2 separate regions of the Homo sapiens genome follow, and region 1 is linked to region 2. The links come from fine-mapping of genetic effects on plasma protein levels. A gene starts in region 2. The other region holds a variant in brackets. All regions are shown on one strand. Distances are from middle to middle.

What was found. PIP is the posterior inclusion probability: the model's chance that the variant is causal. The UK Biobank Pharma Proteomics Project read protein levels with antibody pairs (Olink). The fine-mapping took linkage between variants from a reference panel, not from the people measured, so its PIPs are less certain.
Region 1: its variant is fine-mapped to the plasma level of the IL12RB1 protein (UK Biobank, PIP above 0.99).

The regions. Positions count from the first base shown.
Region 1 is chr19:18,057,858-18,060,788 of GRCh38, reverse strand. IL12RB1 (interleukin 12 receptor subunit beta 1) reads left to right here. Exons shown (of 17, transcript NM_005535.3): 16 at 704-895; 17 at 1,176-1,794. The coding sequence ends at 1,181. Among named protein-coding and RNA genes, the nearest start is that of IL12RB1, 28 kb to the left of the region's middle. The variant A/GA (reference allele first, on the strand shown) is at 1,334.
Region 2 is chr19:18,085,568-18,088,067 of GRCh38, reverse strand. IL12RB1 (interleukin 12 receptor subunit beta 1) reads left to right here and starts at 1,134. Exons shown (of 17, transcript NM_005535.3): 1 at 1,134-1,308. The coding sequence starts at 1,245. RefSeq lists enhancers at 803-862, 873-1,222.

The DNA.
Region 1 (2,931 bases), 27 kb after region 2:
AAGCAGGGTGTCCATTTTCCCCATTAACTGGGGCAAAAGTCTCAGGGCCATCACTGATTGGTCCAGCTTGGGTCACATGCCCTTCCCTGAGCCTATGGCTAGAACCAGAGGGGTAGGGAAGGGTCTGATGGGTGGGCTGGCCAGGGTCACATGACCATTGCTAGAGCTGAGGTGGGGTCACTGCACTGTCAACCACACCATCTGTGAAAAGAGGGAGGGAAATTTCCCAAAGACAGATGGGAGTGCTCTTCCTAAGAGGGGCTGAATGGGAGTCAGTGCGGCAGACTCCATCCTCAAATCGGTCTCAGGATATATGGAGTCTCGCTCTGTCACCCAGCCTGGAGTGCAGTGGCGCCATCTCGGCTCACTGCAACCTCTGATTCCCGGGTTCAAACGATTCTCCTGCTTCAGCCTCCCAAGTAGCTGGGATTACAGGCGTGCGCAACCAAGCTCAGCTAATTTTTGTATTTTTAGTAGAGATGGGGTTTGGCCATGTTCTCCAGGCTGGTCTCAAACTGCTGACCTCAAGTGATCCACCCGCCTCAGCCTCCCAAAGTGCTGGGATGACAGGTGTGAGCCACTGCACCCGTCCAGGTCTCAGGATGTTAGAGAATTTAACCAGCAGTGACCTGGTCCGTTCCATCCTGCTGTGGATGGGAAGTAGAGCTCTGCTCACAGCTGTGGCCCTACCCTCCCTCTGCAGACTTGGCAGTGGATCAACCCAGTGGACTTCCAGGAAGAGGCATCCCTGCAGGAGGCCCTGGTGGTAGAGATGTCCTGGGACAAAGGCGAGAGGACTGAGCCTCTCGAGAAGACAGAGCTACCTGAGGGTGCCCCTGAGCTGGCCCTGGATACAGAGTTGTCCTTGGAGGATGGAGACAGGTGCAAGGCCAAGGTCCTGGGGCCCAGTGGGCCAGACGGTCAGGGGTGCAACCCTGCCCGGGGGGTGGGGGGGCTAGACATCCATCGCTCCTGGGATATCAGGGCCTGGAGGCCTGAGGGAGAAACGAAAACATCCACTTTGTCTTACAGACACGAAGAGCGACTATCTCAATCACAACGGCTGGTTATTAAGCACTTATGGCATACCCAGCCCATTCCATCCACTCACATGATTCCCTACCAAATCCCTACAACCACCCCCTGAAAGGAACCATGACTGTTGTACTTTACAGATGTGATCGTTGAGGCTCAGAGAGGGTGAGTGACTCGCCCGAGGCTACGTAGCACACACAGGAGTCACATTTGGACCCAAATAACCCAGAGCTCCTCCAGGCTCCAGTGCACCTGCCTCCTCTCTGCCCCGTGCCTGTTGCCACCCATCCTGCGGGGG[A/GA]ACCCTAGATGCTGCCATGAAATGGAAGCTGCTGCACCCTGCTGGGCCTGGCATCCGTGGGGCAGGAGCAGACCCTGCCATTTACCTGTTCTGGCGTAGAATGGACTGGGAATGGGGGCAAGGGGGGCTCAGATGGATCCCTGGACCCTGGGCTGGGCATCCACCCCCAGGAGCACTGGATGGGGAGTCTGGACTCAAGGGCTCCCTGCAGCATTGCGGGGTCTTGTAGCTTGGAGGATCCAGGCATATAGGGAAGGGGGCTGTAAACTTTGTGGGAAAAATGACGGTCCTCCCATCCCACCCCCCACCCCACCCTCACCCCCCTATAAAATGGGGGTGGTGATAATGACCTTACACAGCTGTTCAAAATCATCGTAAATGAGCCTCCTCTTGGGTATTTTTTTCCTGTTTGAAGCTTGAATGTCCTGCTCAAAATCTCAAAACACGAGCCTTGGAATTCATTCATTCATTCATTCATTCATTCCACATATATTTATTAATCTCTTCCTCTAGGTCTCCTCCAGGAGCACCTAATCCGGGGGAGACAGAGCCGGATGAGAGCTTGGAACCCTACTAAGTTAGGACTGAGCAGGGGAAGGGACGGCCTAGGGGGAGTGGAGCAGCCGGGCACTCCGGTAACAGGAACCGTGGTTTGCCCCCACGCTCCTTCCTCCTCACGCCCACCAACTCGCAGCAGGACCCTTGCCCCCCTTACACACCCTGAATCCTCCCTCTTTCTGCCCACACTGCCCCACCTCCCTCGCGTTCTGCAGCCGCCTCCCCCTGATCCCCACTGCGGTCTGAGCCGAGGTGTGGGGGGGGGCTCCTGAAATCCCACCCCAGCCCTGGCGATTAGCGGGTAGTCCAGATTCTCCCCATGGCCACCAGGTGGCAACAGCGGCGCGCGTTTCCCCGGCCGGGCCCGCCCTGCCTCCTCCCACCGCGTTTGCTAAACAGACTTTTCCGGTTTCAGACAGAGGAGGGGAGTTAAAAAGCCCAGAACTACTGAATTTTGTGGCAAAAAAAGGATGAGACCTCTCGGGGAGAGACCCCTGGCAGCCAATAGGGCCAGGAGGCAAGAGGCCCAGGCCCCGCCCCTTTGGTCTGGGGGCCTCCCTTTCCCCATCGATGCATCTAGATAGGGAAACAGAGGCCTGGATCTCGGTGCCCCAGCCACACGGTGGCTGGTCAGAGTTCTGCAAATGCCCCCCGCCCCGCTCCGGATCTGCCACATCCCAGCTTCTGCTCAAGCCGTTCCCTCCACCAGGCATGCCCTCCCTTGAGCGTTTATCCTCCTTTCTTTTTTCTGAGACGGAGTTTGGCTCTTGTTGCTGGAGTGCAATGGCGCGATCTTGGCTCACGGCAACCTCCCGGGTTCAAGCGATTCTCCTGCCTCAGCCTCCCAAGTAGCTGGGATTACAGGCGCCCGCCACCCTGACCAGCTAAAATGTGTTTGTATTTTTAGTAGAAACAGGGTTTCACCATGTTGGCCAGGCTCGTCTTGAACTCCAGACCTCAAGTGATCCACCCGCCTCGGCCTCCCAAACTGCTGGGATTGCAGGTGTGAGCCCTGGAGGCCCCTGGAGTTGGCTGCAAAC
Region 2 (2,500 bases):
TTGTTTAGGTAGACCCAAACTCCTGGGGTCAAGTGATCCTCCCACCTCGACCTCTCAAAGTGCTGGGATTAGAGGGGTGAGCCCAGGTGCACAAGGCTGGAGCTTGGCATGTGGGGAGGTGGGCATTGTGGAGGGCCAGCATGCTGCAAGCTCTTTGTAACAATTTGTTGGAAGGATGAAATTAGGCCATCCAAGAACACTGCCCTCCTTCAGCTCTTGAGTCTCAGATTCAGAAGCTGGCGAGATGGCCCGGTGCGGTGGCTCACGCCTGTGATCCCAGAATTTTGGTAGGCCAAGGCGGACGGATCATTTGAACCCGGGAGTTTGAGACCAGCCTGGGCAACATGGCAAAACCCCCTCTCTTAAAAAAAAAAAAATGCAAAAATTAGCTGGGCGTGGTGGTGCATGCCTGTAGTCCCAGTTCCTGGGGAGGCTGAGGTAGGAGGATGGCCTGAGCCTGGGGAGGTTGATGTTGCAGTGAGCCGTGATTGCACCACTGCACTACAGCTGGGCCACAGATCAAGACCCTATCTCAAAAGAAGAAAAAAAGAATTTGGCAGCCAGGCACGGTAGCTCACGCCTGTCATCCCAGCACTTTGGGAGGCTGAGGTGGGTGGATCACTTAGGGTTAGGAGTTCGAGACCAGCCTGGCCAGCATGGTGAAACCCTGTCTCTACTAAAAATACAAAAATTAGCTCGATGTTGTGGCAGTTGCCTGTAATTCCAGCTACTCGGGAGGCTGAGGCAGGAGAATTGCTTGAACCCGGGAGGCAGAAGTTGCAGTGAGTGGAGATCATGCCACCACACTCCAGCCCGGGCGACAGAGCAGGGCTCCATCTCAAAAAAAAAAAAAAAAATTGGCTAGAGAGGGCCAGAGACCTGGCCAAGTGCATGGAACCACAGGTGGCCCATGGGCCCATGGGGCTGGCATCTGGGTGTTCAGTTCAGGTCTGGGGCCAGCAGGGCAGAACCCCCTAGAACCCTGACTTGCTCCAAAGTCAGACTTGCTCCAGAGTCTGTGGCCGCCACCATCACCACCACCACGGAGCTGACTTCCTGGGTTTCTCTTTCACTTTGACTTGCCTTAGGGATGGGCTGTGACACTTTACTTTTTTTCTTTTTTCTTTTTTTTCAGTCTTTTCTCCTTGCTCAGCTTCAATGTGTTCCGGAGTGGGGACGGGGTGGCTGAACCTCGCAGGTGGCAGAGAGGCTCCCCTGGGGCTGTGGGGCTCTACGTGGATCCGATGGAGCCGCTGGTGACCTGGGTGGTCCCCCTCCTCTTCCTCTTCCTGCTGTCCAGGCAGGGCGGTGAGTCCCCTGACCCTGGCATGGCGGCTCCTCTTGCTGGGTGGAGGCACGTGTATGTGTGGAGAGCTGTGGGCCTGCTGTGTGGGTTGGTTTCATCTCTCTGTGCCTCAGTCTTTCCTGCTGTCAAATGGGAGATGGGCAGTCATGGCTTCTGGGATCGAACTTAGACATCTTTCCTCTGGTCTAGATTTTCTCTTCTGTGAAATGCACTAAATTTTTTCCACCTCCCGGAGTTCAATGAGAAAAAAAACTAAGGAAGGAATAAAAAGCAAGTATGTATCTAATAGGTATACATAGTATAGTATCTTATGTATGTAGTTTACAATAGATAGACATACATAATATAATGTATACAGTCATTTCCATATTTACGGGGCAATGGTTCCAGGACCCTCTGCAGATACCAAAATCCAAAGATGCTCAAGTTCCTGATATAAAATGGTAAAGTATTTGCATATAACCTATGCACATCCTTCCGTATACTTTACTTATTTATTTATTTATTTATTTATTTATTTATTTATTTATTTATTTACTGAGGTAGGGTCTCACTCTGTGTCCCAGGCTGGAGTGCAGTGGCCTAATCATAACTCATTGCAGCCTTGACCACCTGGGCTCAAGTGATCCTCCTGCCTTAGCCCCTTGAGTAGCTGGGACTGCAGGTGCACACTACCATGCCTGGTTAATTTTTTTGGTGTATACTTTTTACAGAGACAGCGTCTCGCTGTGTTGCCCAGGCTGGTCTCGAACTCCTGGGCTCAAATGATCCACTCACCTTGGCCTCCCAAAGTGCTCAGATTACAGGCATGAGCCACCATGCCCAGCCTTCCCATATACTTTTAATAATCTCAGGCCCTGCACGGTGACTCACTCCTGAAAATCCAGCACTATGGGAGGCCAAGATGGGTGGATCACTTGAGGTCAGGAGTTCGAGACCAGCCTGGCTAACATGGTGAAACCCCATCTCTACTAAAAATGCAAAAATTAGCCAGGCTTGATGATGGGCACCTGTACTCCCAGCTACTTAGGAGCTGAGGTGGGAGGATCGCTTGAACCCAGGAGGCAGAGGTTGCAGTGAGCCGAGATTGCAGCACTGCATTCCAGCCTGTGTGGCAGAGCAAGACTCTATCTCAATAATAATAATAATAAATAAACTTTCCTTCTCTGTACACTGGGGATCAGCGGGGTGCTG